4 linked regions of the Homo sapiens genome follow. The protein of the gene in region 1 purifies or fractionates together with the protein of each later gene. This does not show direct contact. Each region holds a gene or a part of one and is shown in the gene's direction. Other genes may lie near its edges.

The links.
Region 2: the proteins of TMEM92 (region 1) and CUEDC1 purify together in Homo sapiens (affinity purification with mass spectrometry; 3 studies listed by BioGRID and IntAct, with this or other methods). This does not show direct contact.
Region 3: the proteins of TMEM92 (region 1) and POMT1 purify together in Homo sapiens (affinity purification with mass spectrometry; 3 studies listed by BioGRID and IntAct, with this or other methods). This does not show direct contact.
Region 4: the proteins of TMEM92 (region 1) and POMT2 purify together in Homo sapiens (affinity purification with mass spectrometry; 3 studies listed by BioGRID and IntAct, with this or other methods). This does not show direct contact.

What each region holds. Positions count from the first base shown.
Region 1 is NC_000017.11:50,269,470-50,277,465, forward strand, and holds the start of TMEM92 (transmembrane protein 92 precursor), read left to right. Parts: upstream 1-4,996; 5' UTR 4,997-5,032; coding exon 5,033-5,101; intron 5,102-7,996.
Region 2 is NC_000017.11:57,882,388-57,889,414, reverse strand, and holds part of CUEDC1 (CUE domain-containing protein 1), read left to right. Parts: intron 1-3,535; 5' UTR 3,536-3,850; coding exon 3,851-4,186; exon of another isoform or gene 4,187-4,243; intron 4,244-7,027.
Region 3 is NC_000009.12:131,505,900-131,512,926, forward strand, and holds part of POMT1 (protein O-mannosyl-transferase 1), read left to right. Parts: intron 1-214; coding exon 215-321; intron 322-503; coding exon 504-554; intron 555-1,451; coding exon of another isoform or gene 1,452-1,468; coding exon 1,469-1,615; intron 1,616-3,011; coding exon 3,012-3,123; intron 3,124-3,843; coding exon 3,844-3,909; intron 3,910-4,003; coding exon 4,004-4,097; coding exon of another isoform or gene 4,098-4,242; intron 4,243-4,360; coding exon 4,361-4,516; intron 4,517-5,437; coding exon 5,438-5,568; coding exon of another isoform or gene 5,569-5,573; intron 5,574-6,141; coding exon 6,142-6,237; intron 6,238-7,027. UniProt on the Homo sapiens protein: Transfers mannosyl residues to the hydroxyl group of serine or threonine residues. Coexpression of both POMT1 and POMT2 is necessary for enzyme activity, expression of either POMT1 or POMT2 alone is insufficient.
Region 4 is NC_000014.9:77,317,876-77,325,197, reverse strand, and holds the start of POMT2 (protein O-mannosyl-transferase 2), read left to right. Parts: upstream 1-4,314; 5' UTR 4,315-4,516; coding exon 4,517-4,764; intron 4,765-7,322. Other genes in the region: GSTZ1 (maleylacetoacetate isomerase), read right to left, coding at 277-328, 576-593. UniProt on the Homo sapiens protein: Transfers mannosyl residues to the hydroxyl group of serine or threonine residues. Coexpression of both POMT1 and POMT2 is necessary for enzyme activity, expression of either POMT1 or POMT2 alone is insufficient.

The sequences.
Region 1 (7,996 bases):
GCAGCAGGGAGCCTCCGATTAGGGAACAAGAGAGCGACATGCCCAACATGGCCTGTCCCTCCTTGGCAATGAGGTGACCAAGCTAGAGGCCTTGTTGAATATGGCTACGAGAGTCCTGAGGAGCCAGGCTGCACGGGGTGCCGATGGCAGTGGGGATAAAGGGAGAGGACACCTGTGACAGGCACAGCCTCCAGTCTCCATGAGCTCTCAGCCCATGTGGAGAGGCGGGCCTCCTCTGTGAAGTAGACCCAGGCAGCGCTCAGTGGGCTGTGCGGGAGTAGAAAGGGGGAACAAACTGGGAGTGGAGGGAATCACATCTCCAGTCCCAGACCACGTTCAGGAGTGGTCGGCACCTGGACGGACATCCTCTGGGATCTGTCACCAGCCCCACCTTCTCAGGCCTGACTGGCCTTAAGTGGGGCCCAGTGGACAGCAGAGGGGTTTAGTGAGCAAAGCTTCCTGGGGAAACTGGGGTTGGATGCTGCAGCCCATCCAGGGAGGTGAGCAGTCCAAAAGCAGCGAGACCCTGCACTCCTTGGCACCCCACTCTGCCTCCATGTGAAATGCAGAGAAGGAAGTATGGGCCCCTTGTCTCTGCCAGGAATGACAGCTAGCATTTATTTGCCATTACTGTATGCCAGACTCTGAGCGGCCTGTTTCATCCTCATCATGGCCTATATGATGAGGGAGGTACTGTTATCCAACTCCTCCCTCTCCTTCCTGTTGAGAGAGGCCCAGAGAAGTTCCATTTCTCGTCTAAGGTCACACAGCACAACATATTCAGTGGCACACTGACTAACACGACACAATACTGCCCCTACAGGCAGAGCCGGGCTAGAGCAGAGCATTCTGCTGGCTTTGAAAAGAGATCCCAGCCTAGTGCCATCAGCCATTACAGATATTAGTGTCCACCAAAGTATGGGGGTGGGGGGGACTGCCAAGTAAAACAGAATTCACCCTGGCTCTTCCCCTTCACCCAAGCCTGGCCCCCTGGGCTGGGCTGAGCCAGGCTAGGCGAGGCCACCCACCCTGAGTGATCCTCCATCCAGAGCAGTGGAGCAGGGCTCCCCAGGCCCGAGGTGAGTGCCACCTGTGCTGGGTGTGGCGTCTTGAGCGCTGCATGGTTCTGATCCTGACTCAGCCCCTCATGTCCTGTGCGACCTGGCCTTCCCGCTCTCCAGGCCCTGGTTGCCTCCTCTGAGAAGGGCGTAAGTGGGCCGGCTGGCCTCGGAGGCCCCTCCTTCCAGCTGGGCCCCGGCAGGATGCACAATCAGCTCATTCTTTAGTGAATGCACTGGGGGCCCAGCGAGCGTTTATGAAGACATTTCGAAGTGGCTGCTCTTGGGAAACCCCAGATGGAATTTGGTGTTGAATCTAGGGGGCCGCTGACTACATGAGGCCTCTGGGTTTCTGTGCTCGTGTATGCCTGAGCACCTGCACACGCTGCCCTCCTGGTGCTAGGTGACGTGCCAAACAGAAGATGCTGGCCTTGTCCAGGACCCTCCTTCCTCTAGAACAGCCCTTCTCTGCTCAGTCTAGGGGGGTCCATGGTGCTCCCACCCCCTTCTGACCTCACCCACCAAAAATCCGAGGGCCCTGGGGCCATGATGAATGCTAACAGGCCCTGGTGTTCTTGGCCTGGCCTGGGACCACCCACTTCCAGGCTCCTCATCTTGTCCCCATCTGCAGGAAGGAACGTAGGGCAGTTTGGTGTCATGGAACTGGGGGCCCAGCCGAGGGGCTCAAGAGCCCTTCAGACTCTGCCTGGTGAGTCAAGTGCTAAGGACCTCACTTCTTCATTGGAAGATGTGGGGTGGGGGTGGAGTTTGTTCCTAGGACATTGTAGCGATGTGGATAGCATTGCCAGATTTTGTTTTGTTTTGTTTTTCTTTTTAGAGCGAGGGTGGTGCTCTGTCACCCAGGCTGGAGTGTAGTGGTGTGATCTCAGCTCACTGCAGCCTTGAACTCCTAGGCTCAAGTGATCCTCCTACCTCAACCTCCAGAGTAACTGGGACTACAGGTACATGCCACCACACCGGCTTAATTGCTTTTGTTTTCTTTGTTTGCAGAGACAGGGTCTTGCTATGTTGCCCAGGCTGGTCTCAAACTCCTGGGCTCAAGTGATCTTCCTACCTCGGCCTCTCCAAGTGCTGGGGTTATAAGCGTGAGCCACTGTGCCTGGCCTGGTTGCCAGTTTTAACAAAGAAAAACACAGAACATCCCATTAAATGTGAATTTCAGATAGAAAAGTAAATTTTAGCATAAGTATGTCTCAAATATTGCATGGGCCCAGGTGTAGTAGCTCACGCCTGTAATCCCAACACTTTGGGAGGCCAAGGTGGGCATATCACTTGAGGCCAGGAGTTGGAGACCAGCCTGGCCAACAAGGTAAAACCCTGTCTCTACTAAAAATACAAAAAATTAGCTGGACATAGTGGCACATGCCTGTAATCCCAGCTACTTGGGAGGCTGAAGCATGAGAATTGCTTGAATCTGGGAGGTGGAGGTTGCAGTGAGCTCACACCACTCCATTCCAGTCTTGGTTCTCAAAAAATATATATATATTGCATGGGACATAATTATACTAAAATGAAATTATTCATCGTTTATCTGAAATTTGGATTTACCTGGGCCTCCTGTCTTTTGTCCGGCAACCCTAGATCTGGGTCAGGTTGATGCCAGAGACCCAGAGAGCAGCTATGCCAGCCTCCTCCCCCTCCTCCTGCCCCTCTTCAGGGCACTGGTGCCCGCCTAGTTCCCTCACCCCCACTCCTGCTGACCCCCCACATCTGTCCCTTGAGTTCCCACATGCCCTTCTCAGCACCCTCATTTCACCCCGCAGGGTATCTTCCTCCTCTAAGCTCAACCATTTTCCCATTTTCCTCTCCCGTAAGGGCCACACCTCTGTAGGGCTCCCAGCCTGGGCAGGATAGCAGGGAGTGTGGGGTAGAGACCCCAGGCCTTGCTGTTGCAGTGGGGCCTGGGTGGGGACAAGAAGAACCCTGGCAGCCCAAGTTGGCAACGACTCAAGAGGTGGAGGCTCCAGCACTCTCAGGACGAGGTCCCCCTGCCAAGGTCCACCTGCAGGGGAGGAGGGGAGACGGCGGCCCCTTCCCTTCTCCAAGCTCACAGTCACTTCAAATACAGAGGGGCCAGATCCCAATACCCCTCGGATCAGGAGACTAGAAGATTATCTTCTTAAGGGGCAAAAAGGGCTAGGAGGTAATGGGAAATAGAGACAGGGAAAGGGAGAGAGAGAGCAGGGAGACAGCATAAGAAACAGACCGAGAGACTGGGGGTGCAGGACCAAACCAGGGACAAGGAGAAGGGACCAGAGAAACCGAGAAAAACAGACGCCTCCGCCGAGGCAGACAGAGGTGAACAGAGAGAGGAGAAACAGACGGGAGAACAGAGGGAAAGGCTGGGAACTCGAGAGAAACTGGGTGCGGACAGATGGGAAGAAACCGAAACAGAAAAACAGAGGCTGGGAGAAACGGGGAGAGACACAGAGGGGTTAAATATAAGACAGAGAACATGACTGGGAGAGATGAGGGAGAAGGGTGAGAGGCAGAGAGCAAGGAAAGAGAAGAAACGCCCACGACGTCGGGGGTGTTTTTCAGGGGTCAAGACAGATTGGCGACACAGCAGGAGGCGCCCAAGGACATGACGTTGAGCCTCTCAGGGTCCCCCTTGGCCGGGCCAGGGAGCAGCGCCCCACGCTCCATCACCCCCTCTCCCCCTCCCGCGGTCCTGGCTGCACTGCTCCTGCCTCGCCCTCGCCCAGCGCCCCCAGCCCACAAGCCCCGGCCGCGCCCCTCCCGGCTCCCGGGGGCACCCGCGCTGGGCGACGCTGCCACCTGCCGGCCGCTCCCGGAAGCTCCGCGCCTGGAGTGCTGGAGGCGGCGGCCGCAGGGGGCTCAGAATCAGGCCCCTCCGCACTGGGGCGGCCTCCGCGGGGTCTTTCCAGGAATCTGGATGGGCCTGCTCGCCCGCGCCCCGGCGGGCCTGGCAGAGGACCAGCCCCAGCTGCGGACCCCGGGGCAGTCTAAACCCTGGGGCCTTGAGTTCCCGTTTTGTCAATGGGAGAAAATGCACCAACACCTCCTGTAGGATTTCAAGAGGGGAGGGGACACGAAGGTACCCACGTTGTGCTCCTGGTCTTCCTTCCTCGACCTGGAAATCTCAGGGCACTCTGAAATCAGCCAGGCTGCTCTGTCCCTCCCTTTTTGGTCAAAACACAATGGGGTGATATCCCCCAACCATAACCCCTCAAAATCTACCCTAGAACCTTCGCCTTCCCCTCCCTCAACCTCTGCCCCCATTTGACTTCTCACCAGACCCAGAGGTCCAGATAAGAAGGGGCTTCCACGTCCCCTTCCCACTCCCGCCGGTCCCGGCACCCCTCCCTGGAGTCTGGGGCACTTAGGAGTGGAGGAGTTGGGAGTTAGGAAGGCCCAGCTCAGCGGTGTGGAGTTGATCCCACCTCTTTTTAAATTTAGGTTATTTATTTATTTATTTATTTATTTAGAGATGGAGTCTCACTCCGTCGCCCAGGCTGGAGTGCACTGGCACGATCTCGGCTCACTGCAACCTCTGCTTCCCGGGTTCAAGCGATTCTCCTGCCTCAGGCTCCTGAGTAGTTGGGATTACAGGCACCCGCCACCACGCCCGGCTAAATTTTGTATTTCTAGTGGAGACGGGGGGTCTCACCATGTAGGCCAAGCTGGTCTCGAACTCCTGACCTGAAGTGATCCTCCCAAAGTGCTGGTATTACAGGCGTGAGCCACCGCGCCCGGGACCGCTTTTTTAAAAATCCGTTAATCTCTTCTACCTCCCAAATCCCAAAACCCAACCCAGACCTCTGCGCCTCCCTTCCTCCCTTCCTCCTCCCAGCCCCTCCCTGCCCCGAGTCCGCCTCTCCCGGTGCAGCTCCGCCCCCATCCCGAGGCGGGGCCCCATAGGTGGAGAGAAGTGGGAGAGGTCGCAGCCCCGCCTTCTCTACACAGGAAAGCTCAGTGGCCCCCAAGCCAGGATGTCCCAAGCTTGGGTCCCCGGCCTCGCGCCCACCTTGCTGTTCAGCCTGCTGGCTGGCCCCCAAAAGGTGAGACTGGGAGGTAAGGTTGTTGAACTTTTGGGCCCTACCCTTGTAGGTCAGGAGCCTGCTTCTGGAGCCTGGTCGCCACCTTCCAGAATCAGGATTTCCTCCTGACCACACACAGTTAGCTACTTCCTTTCTCTCTTTGCTGTGGAGGTGGAGGTGGGGGCAGCGGAGGAGGCTCTGGGAGAGGCTGGGTTCTCCCACCTCTGAGGGGGATCCTGTGGTGGGAAGTGGCCACCACCCACCACCTTATCTGACACCTAGCACGTCTCTGTGAATAGGGACTTTGGACCCCTTATTAGCCTCAGCTTATCCTTCCAGCTCCTTCCCGCCTGAGCTTTGGACACCTGGGCCAGCACTTAGCCCCAGCTCAGTTCCTCCAGTGCTGGGGGACCCTGGGATGTCCCCACCCTCTTTGGGACTGTGTCTCTGCTTGTTCCCTAGGGGAGAGAAGGCTCTTTTGTCCCCTTCTAGGGGTAAGTAATCCCAGCCTGTGGTGGGATTTGACCTGGCTGCCTGACCAAGGCTGGGGTGACCTCTGAAATCTGTGATTTTGAGAGGGAGGTGTAGGGTTCGAGTGTTCCCTCCGCCCTTCTGTTCCTCCCAAGTAAACTCTACAGGTGATGGGGGAAAGCTGTCCGGTCCTGGGATGGGTGTTTATCCTGGGAACAGAGACGGGTCTAGAACATGCATTTGTGTCTTATTTCCATTTAAGAACCGGAGGGAAGTCAGGGTCTTCCATAGTTAGGATTTTAGAACAGGGCACCTTCACACATCTGGGCTGAGCTTTCAGAGAGGCTCTGCCAAAACCCTTCCGTGGACCCGGGTTAGTGAGCAAGGTGTTCCTTCTAAATCACTGGGCGGTCAGTTTGTGTCAATGCTGGGCTGGGCATCCTCTGGTTTACCCCTCCCACCAACCCCAGGGGCGAGGTGCTGTTAATACCTTCAATTCTGGAGTTAAGTAAGCTGAGATTTACTTACTCCCAGCCCAAGACCACCCTGACGCTCCATAAAACTCAGCCTCTGAACCACCCCAGACAAGACTACCCCCTGGTTAAAATGTGGGGAGACAATCTGGGAGAAGAGCTCCTCCCCCTCCCAAACCGGAACTTGAGATTAATTTACTAAACCTGTTAATTATCCATTACTTATTAGCTGGGGTCCAGGAAAAGGACAAGGGCCAGAGTGGGGTCTGAGGGGGAAGGGGTGCTGTTGAGTGCCTGGATGGACCCCTCGATTTGTCTCCAAGTTCCCTCTCTGTATATATATATTTTTAATTTAAAGAATAGAGGCCAGGCGCAGTGGCTCACGCCTGTAATCCCAGCACTTTGAGAGGCCGAGGCAGGCAGATCGTGAGGTCAGGAGTTTCAGACCAGCCTGACCAACAACCCCATCTCTACTAACAATACAAAAATTAGCCAGGCATGGTGGCACGTGCCTGTAATCCCAGCTACTTGGGAGGCTGAGGCAGGAGTATCACTTGAACCTGGGAGGCGGAGGTTGCAGTGAGCCGAGATCGCACCACTGCACTCCAGCCTGGGCAACAGAGCTAGACTCCATCTCCAAAAAGAAAAAAAAAGAAAAAAGAAAAAAGAATAGAGACAGGGTCTCGCTATGTTGGCCAGGTTGGTCTTAAACTCCCGGCCTCAAGCAATCCACCCACCTCAGCCTCCCAAGGTATTTAGGATTACAGGGATGAGGCACCGCACCCAGCCTGTCTCCAATTCTATAGTCATTCCTGTGTGCTGTGTGATTTGGATTCACAGACTCACCCTTTCTGGGCCAACCTGCAGGGGTTCCTTCCTGTTCCTGTCCCCACAAGGGGACAAAGCCTGTGAGATGGTACTCAGCCTGGGACTGAGCGTGGAAAAGGGGAATTACCCCAACTCTTATTGGCTATCACTGGTATTCTTATCTTTACTGTTGTGATTTGCAATTGAAATATTTTATAAAGGTATAAAGATAAAGATAACGGTGGTTTTGCCAAAGCTGGCTTCCTATTTTTTAGCCTTGGTTGTTTGTCCCAGGAGGCTAGGGTGGGGTGAGAGATGCCCTTCCCCACCACCCATTTCCTATGTTCTGGCACCTACATCCCTCCCCCACAGTCTGGGAGCAGCCAGGATGAAATGAAACTAGGTAATTGATGAATGCACGTTCATTCATTCTGCAAATATTTTGACTACTGGGTTTTCAACAATGATGCAGCAAAAATCCCTGCCCTCGCGGAGTTTGCCTTTTACACAACTGAAGGACAATTAACAAGATAAAGTAAATATATAGTATGTTAGATGTTGACAAGAGGTGTGGAGAAAAGTTAAGCACACTAAGGGAAAAGGGTGGTTGTAATTTTGAATAAGGTAACTGGAGAGGGAGGAGCTGGAGCCAGCCTTGCAGCCACCTAGAAGAGTGTTCCAAGTCAGTGTGGCTTTGACACACAATTGCTATCAATGGAGGGAAATTCTGTAAGATGCCCTGGGTGCCCTGCAGACCTGGTACAGAAGAGGGGGAAGCTGATTTGGGAGGCGGGGTCCTGGCAGCTTTGCAGAGCATGGAATCCCTTAGGCAGGGATCTGAAGGATGAATGGAGGCTTGGACAGGTGTAAAACAGCCAGGTATGTTCAGGGAACTCCCAGCGGGTGTGTGTGAGAGGAAGAGAAAGAACTAGGGGAAGCGAAAGGGGAGGGAGTGCAGCTGCTCACTCGGGAGGTCTCTACCCCAGGGAGCCACCGAAGGGGGCTTCCAGCAAGATTCTTTGGTGATGAGATTTGCATTATAGGAAGAGTCCTCCTGCCCACAGTGTCTGCAGTGACTGAAGGTGGGATAAGGAAAGTCGCTAGTGCCCTGAGCCATGGGTGTCACGGTGGAAGCCAGGTTGGAAGGGTGGTCAGAAGGGATGAG
Region 2 (7,027 bases), 7.6 Mb from region 1:
GGGGCCATGAGGATCAATATTTCCTTACAGAGGGCTGAAAGAATTCCAGGGATTGACATCCAGGTGCTGGGGAAGACCCCCCTAGAATCTCCCTACCCCATCCCCCCTGTGAGGGCAGCTTGGCCAATTTACCCACTGCTCCTGGCTCTTTACCAGCCTCCTGGGGCAATGATAACTCAAATGCAGCATAGCCACGTTCTAGGCAGTGTGCTGAGGATTATCTTATTTCATTCCCATTGAAACCCCCTAAGGGATACATCCAGATGAGGGCTTAGGGCCACGGAGAGGATGGGAGACTTGTCTGAGGTCCCACAGCTGGGGAGTGCGGAGGCCTTGTCTGAACTGGTGCGTGTTCCCTATAAGTGGCAAGAGTGCAAGGCTTCTGGAGCTTCTCAACACTCAGAGAGGCCCAGAACCCGAGGGAGCTGTCCAGAGGGCTGCTAATGGGGAAAATGTCGGTCTTGCCATCTTCTTTCTTCCTCCCCTGGGGGTGGCCCAGGTCATCTTTCTCCGAGGGATTGCCTTTGGCAGAGTGAGACCTGGGTCCCTCCATCTCTGTTAGTAAATTACTGGAGGGGCAGAGAGATGATGGCTTTACTCCAGAAGGCCTTAACACAAGTCACTGACCCCTGTGTGTGATGACACTAGGACAGCAGACAGTAGCCCAAGGCATCAGCTTCTGGGGCCTCCTGGCCCTGAGGTCTGTGTTAGAGGCTTGAGGGCAGGTCCCCAGAGCCCAGGACAAAGGCAGCTGTCAGGGTGGAGCCCAGGCGAAGCTGCATACTCTTCTGATGTGTGTGGGTTCGTGGAGATGTGGGTGTAGGGGTGTTGGGGTGTCTAAAGCCGGCTATGGGAAGCCATGTCATACTTGGCTACCTTCCTATGTTCCTTCTCACAGCAAAACTCTTGGACTGATCATTTGAAGTCACCCCTCTGTGTCTTCTTGTGAAATGGCTTGGGCGTCTCTGGGCTCTGACTTGCTCATCTGGGAAGAGATGGGGTAGAGGGAGTTGGATTATAAATCATGCTTCACTCAGTCAACAGAATGCTACTCAGGCACTAAAAATGATGGCGTAGCCCTACGTATTCTGACATGGGAAGATGGCCACAATATCTTATTATGTGGAAAAAACTAGTTGCATAGGATTTATGGTTTGATTACATTTTAGTAAAATAAATTCATTTATGGTGGTATATGCAAAGAAAAAATAATGCCGGGCGCAGTGGCTCACGCCTGTAATCCCAGCACTTTGGGAGGCTGAGGCAGGTGGATCACTTGAGGCCAGGAGGTTGAGACCAGCCTGGCCAACATGGTAAAACCCCATTTCCATTAAAAATACAAAAATTAGCACCAAGCGTGGTGGCACGTGCCTGTAGTCCCAGCTACTCAGGAGGCTGAGATGGGAGACTTGCTTGAACCTGGAAGGTGGAGGTTGCGGTGAGCCAAGATCACGCCACTGCACTCCGGCCTGGGCTACAGCCAGACTCTGTCTCAAAAAAAAAAAAAAAAAAAAAAGAGAAAAAGAAAAAGAAAAGAAAAAATCGAGATGTAGACACACTAAAGTGTGAACAGATTTTCTCAGGGGTTGATGTACTCACAAAAACATCTTGGCCAAGCATTGAAGCTCATGCCTGTAATCCCAGCACTTTGGGAGACCAAGGTGGGCAGATCACCTGACGTCAGGAGTTTGAGAACAGCCTGACCAACATGGCAAAACCCCATCTGTATTAAAAATACAAAAAAAAAAAAAAAAAAAAAGCCAGGCGTGGTGGCGTGTACCTGTAGTCCCAGCTACTCGAGAGGCTGAGGCAGGAGAACTGCTTGAACCTGGGAGGCAGAGGTTGCAGTGAACCAAGATCACAGCACTGTACTCCAGCCTGGGCGACAAAGTGAGACCGAAAAAAAAAAAAAAATTTCTGTATCAGCTGTTAAGATTGTGACTCCAAGTCCTAGAAAAGTGAAAACAAGTTTGCACCTGTTTCATCAAACTCAAGGATATTATTTGATGGAATTGTCCCTTAAAATAAAGCTGCCACTGTCAGAAGTTGGTGTTTAGGCGCATTCCATTCCCAGTGGTCTGTGCTAACAGAAATGCAACCTTGGCAGTGATTTACATGCCTGGGTTTGAGTGGGCCGGGTGGTTTTCTGTGGCAGATTAAGGTCCCTCATTGTGCTTGATTTTCAGTTCCACCTATACATGTTGTCAGGACACTGTGCTGACCCTGGGGGCTGAGGGACACACATTGGCTGGGGCAGGAGAACTGGGCTTGGTGGGGATAAGAACAGAATTTATGGCCGGGCACGGTGGCTCACGCCTGTAATCCCAGCACTTTGGGAGGCCGAGGCGGGCAGATCACGAGGTCAGGAGATCGAGACCATCCTGGCTAACATGGTGAAACCCTGTCTCTACTAAAAATACAAAAAAAAATTAGCCGGGTGTGGTGGCGGGCGCCTGTAGTCCCAGCTACTCGGGAGGCTGAGGCAGGAGAATGGTGTGAACCCGGGAAGCGGAGTTTGCAGTGAACCGAGATCGTGCCGCTGCACTCCAGCCTGGGTGACAGAGCGAGACTCCGTCTCAAAAAAAAAAAAAAAAAAACAACCAGAATTTATGATGTATATGGTTTCTCAAGACAACTTTGAGAAAAAACTTCTAGAATTTTTAAAAATATGTAAGGACACTGAGTGTTCCATAAGAACAAACGTGTCTGTGATATAAATAAAACATGTCGGCCTGACATTGGGGTAAGGAAAATGAACTCCAGGGGTTGACAATGGCCTTGCATCTCTCTTTTGGGCTGGTGCTTCTCAGGGGAATGGACTGAGTTTTAGGGCCTGACATGAGTTTTCCAAGAGTGGGAACTGGGCCTCCCCTATTAGCCCGAGGCTCTGCAAGGATGAAACCCTGTTTCCTCTCTCAGGCTGGAAGCTCCCGGTGACACTGGAGGGTCCCGCTTCTCATCACTGCTGTCCCCGGGGTTCGATGGAGCTCTGCACAAGATTCCTGCCCTGGTGGTGGGACCACGATGTTGGGGCAGTGATGTGGGAAGATGAGAACAGGGACTAGAGATCAGAGAGGCAGGACATCTTTAAAGAGCCCCTCCTGCCTCACTCAGGTCTTCAGGGGTCTTTGGCAGTATGTGTAATGGTAGAGACCAGTGACTTGAGGGCCATATGTCCCAGATTCAAATCCTGGCTCCTCCACTAACTCAGCGTCTATACCTCACTTTTCCCATCTGCAACATGGGCATACTAGCACATACCTTACAGTATTGTCATGAGTTGGCCCACATAGAGCACTTAGGATGGCACCTGGGTCGGAGGAATCCCTTGCTAACTGGTGGCTGTCCTGTGCTAGTAAAGAACTGTGGGGATTTCATTACTGAAGCCGGGGAGAAAGCATGAGGAAGAAGCAAGCCTCCCTTGCCCGTGGTAGGGGTCGCGGTTCCCTGCCCTCATTTCTTAGTAGCCCTTGGCCGCCACCCTGAGCTCATGTTTTGTTAGCCTCGGCCCTGACTCCATCTCTTTCGGTTTCAGGTGGGACCATCCGTGAAACCGGTGCCAGGATGCACCGGGGGTGTGGATGACCGGCCGCCCAGCCCCAGCACGGCCCGGTCCCGCATGCCACCGCCCCGCGAGGACCGCTCTCCAAGGGCTGCCTGGGGCCCCGCGCCCGTACTCTCCTAACCCGGAGCTCTTGGCAGCCCATTGCTGCCTGGCTACCCGGGGAGGAGGAGGCGCAGGAGTGAGCTGCCCGAGACCGCAGGGCAAGTAAGCGGCTGACGGCGGAAAGACCCTGGGGAAGGGGCTTTGCGGCCGGCTAGAAACATTTTCCCCAAGCGGCTCCGCAAAATGACCAGCCTGTTCCGCCGGAGCAGCAGCGGCAGCGGCGGGGGTGGCACCGCCGGGGCACGCGGGGGCGGGGGAGGCACGGCCGCCCCCCAGGAGCTCAACAACAGCCGGCCTGCCCGCCAGGTGCGCCGCCTGGAGTTCAACCAGGCCATGGACGACTTCAAGACCATGTTCCCCAACATGGATTACGACATCATCGAATGCGTGCTGCGCGCCAACAGCGGCGCTGTGGACGCCACCATCGACCAGCTGCTGCAGATGAACCTGGAGGGCGGTGGCAGCAGCGGCGGCGTCTATGAGGACAGCTCCGACTCGGAGGACAGCATCCCCCCGGAGGTAGGGGCGCAGCCCGGGTAATTCCAACCACCACTGGAGGACAGCATCCCCCCGGAGGTAGGGGCACGGCCCGGGTAATTCCAACCACCACTGGAACCTCTAAGAGGACCTGGGTTACTCCGCTATCTGGGTTCTAATTAGCAAGCAGCCTTACTTCCCCTAGGGAAAAGTACCATCCGTCAGTCACCTTATTTTATGGGCAGAAATCATGCAGTCATTCAACAAACACTGAGCGCCCACTCAGTGGTGTGCGAGACGTGGCACTAGACCCTGAGTCAGGAGGCATCAGAATCAAGGTGCTTGTTAAAAATGCAGGTGCCTGGGCCCCACCCCAACATACTGAACTCCACATCAGGCGTAGAGTCCGCTAGTGGCCAAGTCAGACCAAATTTCTGCCCTCCTGGAGCTCACAGTCCAGTGTGGACTAGAAGCGCGAGTCGGGTACTGACGGCCAGAGTGGTAAGTGCTCGATGGAGACGTGGAAGCAGCAGAAAGGAGTGACTTCCCAGAGGAAGCGATGGCTAAGCCGAAACCCTAAGCTGAGACCCAAAGGAAGAGTGAAGCCGGGGGAAGGGTGTGCAGGCAAAGGGAACAGCTTGTGCAGAGTCTGGGAGGTGAAATAGTGCCTCACTGGCTAGGGAACTGGCAGCAGGACCATCTGTCAGGGTCCTAGAGTGAGAGGAGATCAATGAGGTTGACAAAGCCCTGACGCTGAGAAAAAGAGTGCGGCTGGGGCCGGGCGAGGTGGCTCATGCCTGTAATCCCAGCACTTTGGGAGGCCGAGGCAGGTGGATCATGAGTTCAGGAGTTCGAGACCAGCCTGGCCAATATGGTGAAACCCCATCTCTACTAAAAATACAAAAATTAGCCAGGCGTGGTGGTGCGCACCTGTAGTCCCAGCTACTCGGGAGGCTGAGGCAGGAGAATCGCCTGAACCCGGGAGGCAGAGGTTGCAGTGAGCCGAGATCATGCCACTGCACTCCAGCCTGGGTGACAGAACAAGGCTCCGTCTCAAAAAAAAAAAAAAAAAAAAAAAGAAAAGAAAAAGAGTGCGGCTGTATCCTGGGAGCATAGCCACGGAAAGGGAGTGAGGAATCAGACTTGCCAGTTAAATCCCTCTGACTGTGGCCTGATGGAAACAGTAGTGAGCCATAGCCAAGCAGTCTCTCCAGGGAAGTGGCTGGAGAGAGGGGACCTGCGTACTGCATCAGTACCCACCTGCTGGAGGTTGTGAGTCCTTTCCAGTCCCACCCGAGTTCAGTGGACATCTGGCCACCCAGTATCAGCAGAGCCTGAGGTGCTTGGTGCAGAAGGATGAGGCACACAGAGCCTGTTAATCAGAGGGGTGTTGTCCACAGGGCCATCTGGGACATGCAGCCATGGACAAGACCAGGACCCAGCAGGATTTAACTCCACTCTTTATTGAGTCCCGACCCGTGCCAGGCATCATCCTAAGTGCTTTAGATGTATCATATCTTCTTTTTTTGTTTGTTTTTTTGTTTTTTTGAGACAGAGTCTTGCTCTGTCGCCCAGGCTGGAGTGCAATGGCGCGATCTTGGTTCACTGCAACCTCCACCTCCCAGGTTCAAGCGATTCTCCTGCCTCAGCCTCTCGAGTAGCTGGGACTACATGCATGTGCCATCATGACCGGCTAATTTTGTAGTTTTAGTAGAGATGGGGTTTCACCATGTTGGCCAGGCTGGTCTCGAACTCCTGACCTCAGGTGATCTGCCCGCCTCGGCCTCCCAAAGTATTGGGATTACAGGCATGAGCCACTGCACCTGGCCCGATGTGTCATCTCTTCTAATCCTCACAAACTTTGTGCTGTGGCATTATTATTACCCTTGTTCATCAGCCATCCTGCAGGGCAAAGTCTCCTTGCTTTTCCTCCTTAGTGGGTGCTGCTGAGACTTCCCCTAGAGGTGGAAAAGCTCTGTTGGCCAAGACATCTGGCTCATCCCTGTGTCATCTGCAGCACCCAGGACAATCCACGCACATAGCAAGCACTCAGGGAGTGTTTGTTGAATGAGTACGTGTTGCTGCTGTCTTTGTACAGTTTTCTATTGTCTCTCTCCTTGGGAGACCACTCCTTTGATCTGCTTGGAGTAGGTGGTGGAAGGAATATTGGAAAATATGGATCCTCTTTGTAGAAAGAAGGAGAGAGAGAGAGTGAGAGTATGCGTATGTATGTGTGTGTCTGCAGATACAGTTGACCATTGAACAATGCAGGGGTTAGGGGCAGTGAATCCTCCCCTTGCAGTCAAAAATCCACTTTTTAATATAACTTTTGATTTTCCCAGAAATTGACTGCTAATAGCCTATCGTTGACCTCAAGCCTTAACTCAAGCCTTAACATAAACAGTCGACTAACATATATTTTGTGTGTTGTATGTATCATATACTGTATTCCTACAATAAAGTAAGCTAGAGACAAGAAAATGTTAAGAAAATCATAAGCAAGACAAAATATATTTTCTACTCATTAAGTGGAAGTAGATCATCGTAAAGGGCTTCATCCTCATCTTCTCACATTGAGTAGGCTGAGGAGGAGGGACAGGAGGGGTTGGTTTTGCTGTCTCAGGGGTGGTGGAGGTGGAAGAAAATCTACCTATAAGTGGACCCACGCAGTTCAAACTCTTGTTATTTGAGAGTCAACTGTATATGCTTTAAGTGTGAACTGGAAGGAAAGCTCTCTGCAAGCTCTGACCCTTTCTGCAGTCTGATTTGCCCTGACAGTCTGGCAGGTAGGGTAGTATTTTCTCCTTTGTCCATGGCCCCCACAGTCCTATAGACCTCTGCAAGGCTTCACCACCCCCTAGGTAGGCCCTTGCTGTGTGTGCA
Region 3 (7,027 bases), on another chromosome or scaffold:
GCTGTGCTTGGTGAATTCCCCATGTCTCTGTGGGTGGGTGATGCTGTATGCATCTTAATATTTGGGGATGGGAAACAATTGGGGCAAAAGATCCAGCCTTTGCTGATCACTCACTCAAAGTCATTTGGAAACACATACACATTTATCCTCACAGTTTTTGTTTACAGTTAAGATTCTAATTGAATATAATATGGGTTGTTGTTTTTTTTTCTAGTTTTGACGAAGTATATTATGGGCAGTACATCTCTTTTTACATGAAACAAATCTTCTTCTTGGATGACAGTGGGCCGCCATTTGGCCACATGGTGCTGGCCTTGGGAGGTAGGAGTCATCAGGAGAGTAGCCCCTACCCTTCAGGACCTCAAATACATTTAAAACTTATCAGTGCATTTCTTACAGGCAGAAACCAGGTCTTATTATTGATGCATCTTGTTTATTGCTTGCCACAGTACTCTAGAAATATTTGCTGAATGGGATAGTTACTGATTAATCTTCTGTTTCAGGTTATTTAGGAGGATTCGATGGCAATTTTTTGTGGAACAGAATTGGAGCAGGTAAAAGATAATTTTCATTTCCCTTTTAATGTGCGCAGGTTAGAATGAAGAGATTGTGACTTTTGTAAGGATTAACAACTGTGGCTTTTTTTTTCCTTTCATACCTAGTCCCACAGAAACTGTGCCTTATTAATCTGAGTCCAGAAAATAATAAATTGGTTGGATACAAATGAAAGACTTCTGGAAAGTCTGGTTAAAATCTTACTGTTCAGTTGCAGTCATTATTTCAGCCCTTGTCGTTGGTACACGTATCACAGAGCGTCTGATTGTGATGATCGGTTGTACATGTGAATTTTGTCCATTGCCACAATGTTTTTGAAAATAGGGAGGGTAGGCCGGGCGCGCTGGCTCACGCCTGTAATCCTGGCACTTTGGGAGGCTGAGACGGGTGGATCATGAGGTCAGGAGATCGAGACCATTATGGCTAACATGGTGAAACCCCGTCTCTACTAAAAATACAAAAATTAGCCGGGCGTGGTGGCGGGCGCCTGTAGTCCCAGCAACTCGGGAGGCTGAGGCAGGAGAAGGGCGTGAACCCGGGAGGCGGAGCTTGCAGTGAGATGAGATGGCGCCACTGCACTCCGGCCTGGGGGACAGAGCAAGACTCCGTCTCAGAGAAAAAAAAAAAAAGAAAAAAGAAAACAGGGAGGGTAAATATGTATAAGTAAGGCGGTAAATTTTAGAATCCTTAGTCCTGTCTATGCTTCATGAGATCGGGTTCCATGACTATGCAAAGCTAATTTCAAAGCCTTCACCCATAGTTTATGCACTCTGCTGCTGATGGGGTCCCCAGTTTTGTAAACGTGCATTTTAGAGTCTGTGAACATGACGGCGCTATGTGAAAGCATAGCTGCAGTACACAGAGATGGTGTGTGCACAGTGTAGTCAGCTCTGCAGTGTGGTTGCTTTTCCAGAATACAGTAGCAACGTGCCTGTGTGGTCCCTGCGCCTGCTGCCAGCACTCGCGGGGGCCTTGTCGGTCCCCATGGCCTACCAGATAGTGTTGGAGCTCCACTTTTCTCATTGTGCCGCCATGGGAGCTGCTCTGTTGATGCTTATCGGTAAGACCTGCGCCCCTGCCTGCTCTTGCTGTCATGCAGGGAAGAACTGACCCTTTGGCCCGGAAGATCACATGGGCTTGGTGGGCGAGCTGCACCAGAAAGTGCATCTGGTTCATCCAAATTTGACGCTGCAAGTCACCCGCTCCCAGGCTGACCCCGTGGTTATGGGATTGCTGAATTGTGGGATCAGACTCTTATCAGCAGTCGGGGTATGGCAGTAGAAAACTGCCCAGATGCTGCTGCAAAGTCCATGCACACGTGGGCACCTCCATCTCCAACCAATCTTGTGACCAAATGATAACTTCCCCTTGTTCCACCACCTCCCAGGCCTTGGCCAATTGAGATGGACTCGTGAGTCAGTGGATCCTCTTCAGAGAGGGTCTTCCAGCTCACGTTTATGAACAGATGAAATTAAAGCAGATGAAAAGTTAGATTAGGCTGGGCGCAGTGGCTCACACCTATAATCCCAGCACTTTGGAAGGCTGAGGCGGGCAGATCACGAGGTCAGGAGTTTGAGACCAGCCTGGCCAACATGGTGAAACCCTGTCTAAAAATAACGAAAAATACAAAAAATTAGCTGGGTGTGGTGGCAGGTGCCTGTAATCCCAGCTACTTGGGAGGCTGAGGCAGGAGAATTGCTTGAACCTGGGAGGTGGAGGTGGCAGTGAGCCAAGACTGCGCCACTGCACTCCAGCCTGGGCAACAGAGCAAGACTCCATCTCAAAAAAAATAAATAAGCCGGGCACGGTGGCTCACACCTGTAATCCCAGCACTTTGGGAGGCTGAGGCGGGTGGATCACAAGGTCAAGAGATCGAGACCATCCGGGCCAACATGGTGAAACCCCATCTCTACTAAAAATACAAAAATTAGCTGGGCATGGTGGCACCCACCTTTTGTCCCAGCTACTCAGGAGGCTGAGGCAGGAGAATCGCTTGAACCCGGGAGGCGGAGGTTGCAGTGAGCCGAGATTGTACCACTGCACTCCAGCCTGGTGACAGAACAAGACTCTGTCTCAAAAAAATAAATAAATAAAATTAGCCAGGTGTGGTGGCATGCGCCTATAGTCCCAGCTACTCAGGAGCCTGAGGCAGGAGGATCCCTTGAGCCCTGGTGGTCAAAGCTGCAGTGAGCCATGATGGTGCCACTGCACTCCAGCCTGGGCGACAGAGCAAGACCCTGACTCAAAGAAAAGAAAGAGACAGTAGAAAATCAAAAGAGATGTGTATTGGGTGATGACTGTATGAGGCCTTGTGTCTATAGAATGTTTTAACATTCACAACAGCCCCACACAGTTGTATCGCTTCTGAAGTAATGCCTTTTTTCATGAGTGTTTTTCATCCTCATACGTTTTCCCTTGCTACCTTAAAATTGACATGTGTTTCCTCTTTGAAACAGAGAATGCTCTCATCACTCAGTCAAGGCTAATGCTTTTGGAATCAGTGTTAATATTTTTCAATCTATTGGCCGTGTTGTCCTACCTGAAGTTCTTCAACTGCCAAAAGCACAGGTATGGAAAATGGAGTGTCTTCCTAGTTAACGAGAACAGAGATTCTGGGTGGTTTGTTGATCTGAGATGGTCCAGTACCTTTTTTTGTTTCGTTTTGTGAGACAGTACCTTTTCATTTTGAGGAGTTGCTTGCTAAATATCTTTTTTTTTGAGACGGAGTCCCTGTCACCCAGGCTGGAGTGTAATGGCGCAATCTCGGCTCACTGCAACCTCCGCTTCCCAGGTTCAAGCAATTCTCCAGCCTCAGTCTCCCGAGTAGCTGAGATTACAGGCACACAGCACCATGTCTGGCTAATTTTAGTATTTTTAGTGGAGACGGGGTTTCACCATATTGGCCAGGCTGGTCTCAAACTCCTGACCTCAGGTGATCTACCCGTCTTGGCCTCCCAAAGTGTGGGGATTACAGGTGTGAGCCTCTGCGCCTAGTGCTAGATATCTTTTGGTCCTCTAATATTTTGGGGGTTGGCCCTTGGCTTGTGACTTCATAAATACATCTTCATTTTTCTATAATTTAAACTAACAGGACAACATTTTCTGGGCAAAAAGAAAAATTCTGCTGGGATGGATACTTTGGGAGATGGGAATTCTTTCTTACTGCCCCTGTGGCTCAGCATGGCCAGCCGACCCAGAAAGATTTCTCTGAAGAATGTGGAGCTTCACTAGCCTTTTGGAAATGTGTCTGAACTATTTCTGTCTCCATCTGCTTTGTTTTTATTCCAGCCCTTTTTCTCTGAGCTGGTGGTTCTGGCTAACACTGACAGGGGTCGCTTGTTCCTGTGCAGTGGGGTGAGTTTGAGCCTCTGGTCTTGGGCAGTGTCCTCCTCCATCTCCTTATGTTTTCCTGTCTCATGTTAACTCCATTTCTGTCATGTCTTTGCAGCATCAAGTACATGGGTGTGTTCACGTACGTGCTCGTGCTGGGTGTTGCAGCTGTCCATGCCTGGCACCTGCTTGGAGACCAGACTTTGTCCAATGTAGGTGCTGATGTCCAGTGCTGCATGAGGCCGGCCTGTATGGGGCAGATGCAGATGTCACAGGGGGTACTTGGTGAAAAGACTCCAATCCTCAATGTTTTAGAAGCAGGCAGGCCTGGGCAGCCTCGCCTCTTGGCCTCTGCAGGTGCCTCTGTATGGGAGGCCAGAGTTTCTGTCACTAACTTTTTCTAAGCTCACAATGTCTAGAGGTGGGTACGCTTTTCCACGCAGTGGAACATGACTTTTCTTTGAATCTCTGGCAGGTCTGTGTGTTCTGTCACTTGCTCGCCCGAGCAGTGGCTTTGCTGGTCATCCCGGTCGTCCTGTACTTACTGTTCTTCTACGTCCACTTGATTCTAGTCTTCCGCTCTGGGCCCCACGACCAAATCATGTCCAGTGCCTTCCAGGCCAGCTTAGAGGTAAGTAAGCAGTGGGCATCGTGGCCACTGGAGAAGGAAGATGATAGTGGACCCAGAGTTTTCTTACAAACACATCAAGTGAACATTAGCACTTGAATCAAAACATGAAGAATCCACATCCATATTTCTTTTTTTGGTGGGGGGGATGGAGTCTTACTCTGTCACCCAAACTCCGCCTCCTGGCTTCAAGCGATTCTCCTACCTCAGCCTCCCAAGTAGCTGGTATTACAAGCACCTGCAACCACACCCAGCTAATTTTTTTGTTTTGTTGGTAGAGATGGGGTTTCACCATGTTGGTCAGTCTGGTCTGGAACTCCTGACCTCAAGTGATCCGCCTGCCTCGGCCTCTCAAAGTGCTGGGATTATAGGCGTGAGCCACCGCGCCTGGCAGCTGGGAGCATTTTAAAGTCAAGTCTTACAAACCCTGGGCAGTTTCACCCGCCTTAAGGACCACACTCAACTGTGACCTTCATTCCTATGAACCTCGCAGCAGTGGTAGAAGGTATCAGTAGAGGTGGTCAGGACTGTGGTTCCTGAAGTCAGCCAAGCCTGCCGACGGCCAGTGCTGTAGTGCTGTGTGTTTCAGCAAGTTGTTTGGCTCACCCTAGTCTTGGTTTTCTCATCTCTTAGACAGACATCATCATTGCTCTTACCTCATTGGATGCTTGTAAGGACTGAATAGGGTGCGCGTGGAAGGCTGAACTGAGTGCCTGGCCCAGAGGCAGCATTTGATCAGACTTAGTGCTCATTATGGTTCTATAATGTAACGTGATGTGATTAAATGGGAGATCATTACCACTGTTACAAGAATGGCCACCAGCCTAAACATCACCCCAGAGGGAGGAGTGGCCATCGGGAAGGCTGGCTTAGGGTCATTTTTCTTTCTGTCTCTCACTCATCAACCTTCTGCTTCTGTCTCAGGGAGGACTAGCTCGGATCACTCAGGGTCAGCCACTGGAGGTGGCCTTTGGGTCCCAGGTCACTCTGAGGAACGTCTTTGGGAAACCTGTGCCCTGCTGGCTTCATTCCCACCAGGACACCTACCCCATGATGTAAGGTGATGGTTTTACTTTGAAGATAATTAAATGCTTTATTTGCTCGTAGATTTGCTTATCTTAGCAACTTTCCCTTTCTTTGAGGAAGTTTGTTTGCAGGACAGAAAGAAGTTGAGCAGCCCGGGTGCTGATTGCCAGTGAGCTTCGTGGTTCCCGGGTGTTGCTGGAGGGACTTGGCGTGTGGCAGGGCCCAGGGTCGGCCCCAGCTCTGTGGCTGTGGCTGACCTCAGCACTGCCTGCCTGAATCATCTGATTTCGGCTCCTTGTCTGTGGTATCTTCATTTTCCCTGAAACCCCTTGCTAGGTTGTATTTGTTGAAATCTGCTTCCCTTTGCAGAAACTTTAGGAGAAAGGCGTGTGGGCCCGATCGATGACCCACTTCCAGATACGTTTCTTTCCCTTTCTTTTCTTTTTCTCATAAATAGACACAGGGTCTCACTATGTTGCCCAGGCTGGTCTCAAACTCCTGGGCTCAAGCAGTTATCCTACCTCAGCCTCCCAAAGTGCTCTGATTACAGGCCTGAGCCACCGCGCCTGGCCCAGATACATCTCTTTGTTGACTTCACACAGATATGAGAACGGCCGAGGCAGCTCCCACCAGCAACAGGTGACCTGTTACCCCTTCAAAGATGTCAATAACTGGTGGATTGTAAAGGATCCCAGGAGGTGAGTGCAGGTCCTGTGACTCCAGAGCAGAGCTCACCTCCTGGCCTGGCCAGGCGAGACCCTGGGATGCAGTCCTGGGCCCCCTTCTTTCCCTCCCTCACTGACTCTAGTCACCGTCATGGCCTTGAACACCAGCTCAGTGCTGAGTCCAAGGTCAGAGGAATAGATCATGAGACCCTCAGTGAGCAGCCTGCTCAGTAGCTGCTCTGAGAAGTTTCCAGGCGAGCCTCAATGCCCCGACCTGTGTCCCTCTCCCTTCCTCATAAAAACAAGAACCCCCCTCCTGCAAAAGTAGCATCATCTTGCACACATCCCAGCTAGAGGTGCCCCTTGCTCTCATTCCCATATCCAGTCCTGTGGATTCTGCCCCCAAACAAGGTCTCTAGCTGTCCCGGTCACTGTCTCCTGATGGTGTCCTCCCATTGCTGCCTGCCCAGCTCCAGCACCTGCAGCCCGAGTGGGCTTTTTCTTTTTTTTCTTCTTATTTTTTCGGGGGACAGAGTCCCACCCTGTTGCCCAGGCTGGAGTGCAGTGGTACGATCTCGGCTCACTGCAACCTCCGCTTCCCGGGTTCAAGTGATTCTCCTGCCTCAGCCTCCCGAGTAGATAAGATTACAGGCGCCCACCACCACATCCTGGTAATTTTTGTATTTTTAGTAGAGACGGGGTTTCACCATGTTGGCCAGGCTGGTCTTGAACTCCTGACATCAAGTGGTCCACCCAGCTCAGCCTCCCAAAGTGCTGGGATTGCAGGTGTGAGCCACCACGCCCGGCCCCCTCATACACTTTC
Region 4 (7,322 bases), on another chromosome or scaffold:
AAACATGGTTGCCAAGGGGCTTTGGAGAGCAGTGTTGGGAGAAGTGTCAGTCCCAAGGGAAAAAACAACCCCCTTCCTCCCACCCTCACCCTGTGTTTCCGGGGTGGAGATGCCATGCAGGGATGGGGGTTCTAGGAGCCGGGGGATGCTGGTTGCTGGGGGTGAGGTCCTCTCTGACAGAGCAACCCTTCCATCCCAGGCCAGCTTTGCACCCGGGCTTATCCGCCCCAGTCCACCCCACTCCAGCACTCATCCTGGAGGAGGCACATCTCTTACCAATTCGAACTCTCCATGAGCAGGAGCTTCGGAAATAGGAATAGAGGATGGGCTGAGGAGAGAGAGGATGAAGGCGCGTGTTAACCCATGCTGGGTGGGCTCCAGCTTGGGAGGAGTCAACCATTTCTTCCTGTCCTGCCAGGCCTCCTCTCTCAGGCCTGCATCTGTGCAAATCAGGGCAGACTCCAAGCTCTCTGAGAGGCTCATGAGGTCCCTTGGCTCCAAAATTATGCTGGTTTGAGCTCCTGAGGTCCAAGAGGCCCCCAAAGGGGCAGCTAGCCTGAGAGTGCCTTCCATACCTTGCCAGACTCTGTCATGGTATCGTGGTGACCCTCAGCCTCCCAGGAAATGTCCCCTCTGGCACAGCTTCTGAGCAGGGAAAGGAAACCTAAAGGGGTGGATTTCAGGAGCCAATGGGGAAGCTGGGCTACCCAGGCATTGGGGGAACTTTGACTCTGGTCAGAAAGGGCATTTCTGGCCAGGCACAGTGGCTCACGCCTGTAATCCCAGCACTTCGGGAGCCAAGGTGGGTGGATCATTTGAGGTGAGGAGTTTGAGACCAGCCTGGCCAACATGGTGAAACCCTGTCTCTACTGAAAATACAAAAAAAAATCAGCCAGGTGTGGTAGTGGGTGCCTGTAATCTCAGCTACTCAGGAGGTTGAGGTAAGAGAATAGCTTGAACCTGAGAGGTGGAGGTCACAGTGGGCCGAGATCGCACCACTGCACTCCAGAGCGAGACTGCGTCTCAAAAAAAAAAAAAAAAAAAAGGCATTTTTTTCCAACTCGCAGGAAGTTTCTTACGCTCCTGCTGGGGCCAGGTTTGGTGTCCCCCCAACAGAGCGTGGCCTGGTTTTGATGCAGTATTTTGAGTGGTGGAGCGGGCTGGGAGCTGGCATCTGGAGTCTGGACCTGGTGCAGGAACCAGCTCTGCATGACCTTGGACAAACCTCTGCCTTTTTAAATCTTCGGCTCCCTCATTTGTAAAACAAAGGTTGCCCTAAAATGATGGCAGGGCATCCTCTAGCAATGCAGCAAGACAAGGAATTCTAATTTTTTGACGCTTTGGTACATATCTCCTTCAACCCCACCTCCCAGCAGTCCTCCGGGCTCTCGGCTGTCCCCATAAAAACAGCTGGCAGATATGCTCACTCACCCCAAAGGTGAGGTCAAAAGCTGGCAGCTCACTGGGGCCCTATCTGGCCCTCAGAATTTCTGTTTGCTCAACACAGTAGTTTAAAATGTTTCAAGTAGTTGCCAATGTTTAAAAATCAGGACATTTCATTCTAGTATGGTGGGTCATGCCTGTAATCCCAGCACTTTGGGAGGCTGAGGCCAGCAGATCACCTGAGGTCAGGAGTTCGAGACCAGCCTGGCCAACATGGCGAAACAACATGGCTAAACAAAAATTAGCCAGGTGTGGTGGTGTGCATCTGTAATCACACCTACTTGGGAGGCTGAGGTATGAGAATTGCTTGAACCCAGGAGGCGGAGGATACAGTGAGCCAAGATCGTGTCACTGCCCTCCAGCCTGGGGGACAGAGCAAGACTCCATCTCAAAATAAATAAATAATAAAATAAAATAAAAATAAAAATCATGATATTTTATATACAACACCTGTTTGTTTTTTTTCTTTAAAAAAATCTGGAGACAGATTTGGGTTCCTAAATAGCAGCAATTGATGGGAACAGACTAATGGCCCCCATCAACCAGCGTATGCGCTCTCAGGTCTGCCATGGCCCATATCTGGCCCACTTTTCTCATTTTTGTTACCTTTGGGCCCTTGGGGGCAGCTGGGTGTGCGATCTCTACTCCAAGGTTTAAGGGGCTCAAAGTTAATTTCTCTGGTACTTCTTCGGGAGCCAGCATTTCAAAGTGGAACCCAGGAAAGACTCGCCAGTGATTAGCACTCATGAATCTTCCCACCAAAACATGTGTATCCCTATGGATAGGGGAGAACTTGAAAGAACTTCTCAGATGCCCTGTTTACTACCCCTCTGACTATAGACATTTCACCAAAGCTCCCTCTCCCCTCTGCCACCCCTAGCATATTAAGCTGCTCTCTGAACTTGCTATTGCCATCCCTGTACTACCAACTCAGTCTGCTAGATGGCAAGGGTGTAAGTGGGAACCTAGGCCCTTCCAAGATGGTTCCCAAGCCCAGCAGTCCCAGCCTGTCCTGAAGGTACCTTTTGTGGAGAAAGTAAAGATGGTCCTGGCACAGAAAGCAGGTGATGGGCAGAAAGTGTCTTTCGAAGAGGAGGAATTGGGTGGCCACAACTGGATCTTCCTTATTTGGAGATGCAACTCCCTTTCCTTACCTAGCCAGGCTACAGGGACTCCTGGTGCCAAGGGACAGGGACTGCTGGTGACCACTAGAGTGTGGCAGACATTAATTAGCTTAGAATCCCTGAAGAAATGCCTTACCTAATGGCTAAATGCCTTTGGATTACACCTTTGGATCTGTACTACGAGTGACCAGAAGCATGGTAAATGCTGCTGCCCTCCGTCACGACCCACAAGCAGGAAACCTGAAATCTCTTAGGCAATTTCTGCCTTCTCTTACCAGTGATAACTATGTAAACCATGCCCCGTTCCTTTCTGCACTTGTAGAACTAAACTTTAAGCCCAAGTATCCATCTCATCAGCACTCCTAGAAGACCTGTGTTTCCAATTCAAATATGCATTCTGATTACTTTAGCAGATTTTATTTTTAAACCATGTCTTACACATGATTTGAGAAAAAGACTCCTAAAATCCCATTTGGAAGAGGGAGGACTATACATTATTAACGTGACGCAAAGTCCCATCTAACGTGCCACCTTCCTTAGTGCCACAAAAGTGGTTCTCAAACTTCATGGCACGTTAAGAACCATCTAGACCGCTTATAAAAACATGCAGATTCTCGAGCCCGTTCCACCAGAGATGAACAGAGTGGCTCTGGAGCAGGCCCCGGGAAGAACATGTGAAAGCCGTGAAGCTCCCCAGGTGATTGTCATGACTGCCTCTCCTCGCTCGGGGCCTTTTTTTTTTTTTTTTGAGCCGGAGTCCCGCTCTTTCGCCCAGGCTGGAGTGCAGTGGCGCGATCTCGGCTCACTGCAAGCTCCGCCTCCTGGGTTCACGCTATTCTCCTGCCTCAGCCTCCCGAGTAGCTGGGACTACAGGCGCCCGCTACCACGCCTGGCTAATTTTTTTGTATTTTAATAGAGACAGGGTTTCATCGTGTTAGCCAGGATGGTCTCTATCTCCTGACCTTGTGATCCGCCCGCCTCGGCCTCCCAAAGTGCTGGGATTACAGGCGTGAGCCACCGCGCCCGGCCCGGGGACTCTTAAAATACAAACATTACTGGAAGGTCACCTCCTGCTAGGGCCAAGAGAAGAGCATGAAGGGCTGCGAGAAATTGGGAGGCTTGGGGCGACGTTTGGAAGCCTTAGTGGAGGGAGGGGTCTGTTATGGGGAGCAGGGAGGGCGGAGCAGAAGTGAAGCGCGACCGGACAGCGACTCCACCCTGCTACGCACTCCCTACCAGGACCGCCTCCTCTGGCCCAACCCTCCCGGAACTTCGAGCCCCAGCGGGCAGCGCGCAGCACGCAGGCGCAGAGCGTGCCCGGCGCAAAGCACTGCATGCCGGGAGTCGTTGTCGGCCTGGGCGGGCGGTGCAGCTCACTTCTGACCCCGCCCCCCAGGGTCTCCAGGTGTCTAACCAGCTTCCCTCCACCCGGGTGCGCGTCACAGACCTTCCCCGCCTGCATCTGGCACTTCGCGCGACCCCCTCCTCCAGGCCGAGAAACTTCGCGCCTGGGACCTGCCGACGACTAAGGCTCAGTGAGACTCGACGAATCAGGCCCGTGTCTTTCGTCCGGGTAAAGCGAGGGGCTGGACTAGAAAGATCCTTCCGGTCGCCTCTGGCTCGCCCAGCTCTCCCGCCACGCCCCGTACCTGGGGGCTGCTGGGAGTTGCAGTTCCCTGAGCCCGACCCCTCCTGCCCAGTCCCCCCCGCCCCGGGCCGGCCGGCCCTCCCGGTCCCGACATGCTCTGCGCCTCCTGCCGCCTCCTAGCGGCCCGGGCCGCGACCACGCTGCCCGCCCCGCCCCGAGCCCGGGGCCCCGCGCTCCGCTGCAGTGAAGGGCGTTGCATTTCCCGGGGTACCCCGAGCTGCCCTCTTGTGACTCCTTGGCGGGGCGGCTGGTCAGACAAAGTGTGCCTCCGGGCCGGAGGGCGACCCAGAGGAGGGGGAAGATGCCGCCGGCCACGGGCGGAGGCCTGGCAGAGTCCGAGCTGCGTCCCCGGAGGGGCCGCTGTGGCCCCCAGGCTGCTAGGGCCGCAGGCCGGGACGTGGCCGCTGAGGCTGTGGCGCGAAGCCCCAAACGGCCTGCTTGGGGCTCACGGCGCTTCGAGGCGGTCGGCTGGTGGGCCCTGCTGGCCTTGGTGACGCTGCTGTCCTTCGCCACCCGCTTCCACCGCTTGGACGAGCCGCCGCACATCTGGTGAGTGATGGGAGGGACTCGGCGGGCACCATGGCAACCGCGACGGGACGCCGCCCTCTGATTGGCCCGAGGGTACGGAGGGGGCGGGATCTATAGGAGGAGGGCCACGGTGGAGGGGAACTTGAGGTATCGGGTGGGTTGGCCTCTGGCGAGGTGCATTCTCTGGGAGGGGGATCGTTTTGCTCTGGTGGTGGGGCAGTGGGATTCTTAGTATCTGAGGAAGCAGCCCTCATGTCTTCCAGGTTATGCTACAGTGCATCACCTGGCTTGCAAATTGTGGCTTTTAAAGGTGCTTTCAACTTTCCAAAGAGAATTGCAAATTTTTGGGTACAGAATTTTCTAAGGCCTGAGTTCCTATGTCTGCAGGATTTTCAGGCATCAACAGAGGAGAAAATACCTAACTGTGTACCTTTATCCTATAGGGCAAGGACAGTTTGGGTGTTCAGGTATGGTGACCAAAGGATTTTATGAGGCAGAACTCTTCTTGTGAGAAGAGATTTATTTTCTTAAAGGTTTTAGCTTGTACTATCCAGATACTGGGTGTCAGAAATGGAATTCTTTAAGCAAAAAGCAGGCAAGAAAACAGACTGTCAGGGTTGCTTTATTTAGAAATTAATAAATTAGCTTGTTATTGTGTCGTGACTGCTGGCAGAAGATGAGACTCCTGGGTTAGAGACAAAGGACTTTATTACAGGAAATAGGATGCATGTTAGAAGCAGTTTCCCTTGCCATCCAAGTCCCACAGGGTGACGCTATGGGTTTAAATGGATGACTGCACAGGCAGTGGGTTGCATCCAAGTGAAGGAACGACAAGCTTGGAAAATCTGCTGTTTTATAGAAGGCAGTACGCAGACCTCCTCTTTGTCCTGGAGGGAGACACTGCCTCTTCTCTCAAAGTTGCTTGCTGCAAACACAACCATGAGAAATGGCCCAGGTGAGATGCAGTCAGGGCCTTGCATTCTTGGTATACCCAGAATGATGTGTAGAGGCACGAGCAATCTGACAGCCTCTCTCACTCCTCGATTCTATGGTCTTGGCTTCTAGCAGATTTTCACATGAATATACAACTCCCCTGGCTACTCACATCTTTTCAGTTTGTCCCTTACAGCATTTAATTAAGGTTGTTGTCAATGGGACTCTAAGCAGCAGAATAAGGCCAGCTTACAGTATTTACCTCAACCATGCCCTCCAGGGTCCTGGATTCAGCCACTTGTGAATAAGTCCTGGGGGCACCGAGGAATCTTATTTCAGACATCTGGGCTGCAGTCTAAGACCAGTCTATTAACCACTGTGACCTGTGCACAGGGGTTCAGATTGATCTCTGATCTTTGGTGTCATTACCAGTAATTACAATAGCCCACTACCCTTGTAAAAATTTTTTTAAGAAAGTAATTACCAGGCTGGGCGCAGTGGCTCACACCTGTAATCCCGGCAGTTTGGGAGGCCGAGGCGGGCAGATCACCTGAGGTCAGGAGTTCGAGACCAACCTGGCCAACATGGTGAAACTCCGTCTCAACTGAAAATACAAGACTTAGCCGGGCATGATGGCGGGTGCCTGTAATCCCAGCTACTCGGGAGGCTGAGGTGGGAGAATCACTTGAACCTGGGAAGCAGAGGTTGCAGTGAGCTAAGATCGCACCATTGCATTCCAGCCTAGGCGACAAAGCCAGACTCTGTCTCAAAAAAAAAAAAAAAAAATTAACTACCATGATTAATGGAAAGATATTTTGTGACCCATTCTTCCTTACACTAACATATTACTTGGAGGAGTGCAGGCCACTCCAGGATTTTTGTTAGATTTTTATTTGGATCACCATCAAATTTGATTACCATTACAGTGGTTTAAACCACATGGGCAGTGTCACTGAACAGTTGCAGCCTCAATCACTAGACAAGGCATAACCTAAGTAAGGCCCTTAGGATCTCAGGAGAAGCATGTGATTTGTATCAGCCGCATTGATAGAAGGTGGTGCTGATCTGTGTGTTTGCACACCTATGAGGGAGGTCTGCGTTTGGGAGTTGGTGTTGATGTCATCAGGCACGTGGGAATAGTTCAAGACTGGCCGTGTCCATGTGAGTTTTTGTTTTCTTTTTTTATTTTCTTTTTTATACTGACCTGCTAGATAAAGTTTTTATGTTTTCATAGTGAGATGACAAACTCAGCCACAGGTCAGATTGCCAGCCACAGTTGCTGCTTGACCTAGATGGACCATGTGAATGTTTGCCAGGCTTTGGTGCTGGATAGGGACAAAGAGAACATTGTTTCCCTTCTCTTTACATCTCCAGGGTCCTGTGGTGTTCCTTCCCCAGATGCCAGGATTGTTTCTTTCCTTCCATTGCTACATAATGAGTGTGTCCTACCCTAGTAACTATAACTTCACCTTTTCTCCATTTATCCCCTACCAATACGCAGGCCTTCTAATATCCAATTGTTAGAAAATTGACAGAGGCCCATTATGTCTTCTACCTTGACACATGTGGGCCACTGTAGGGGGACTTTAAAAGCACTATACCCAACCAAATGATCATTAACTTTATGTTCTGGCACCAGGCCATTC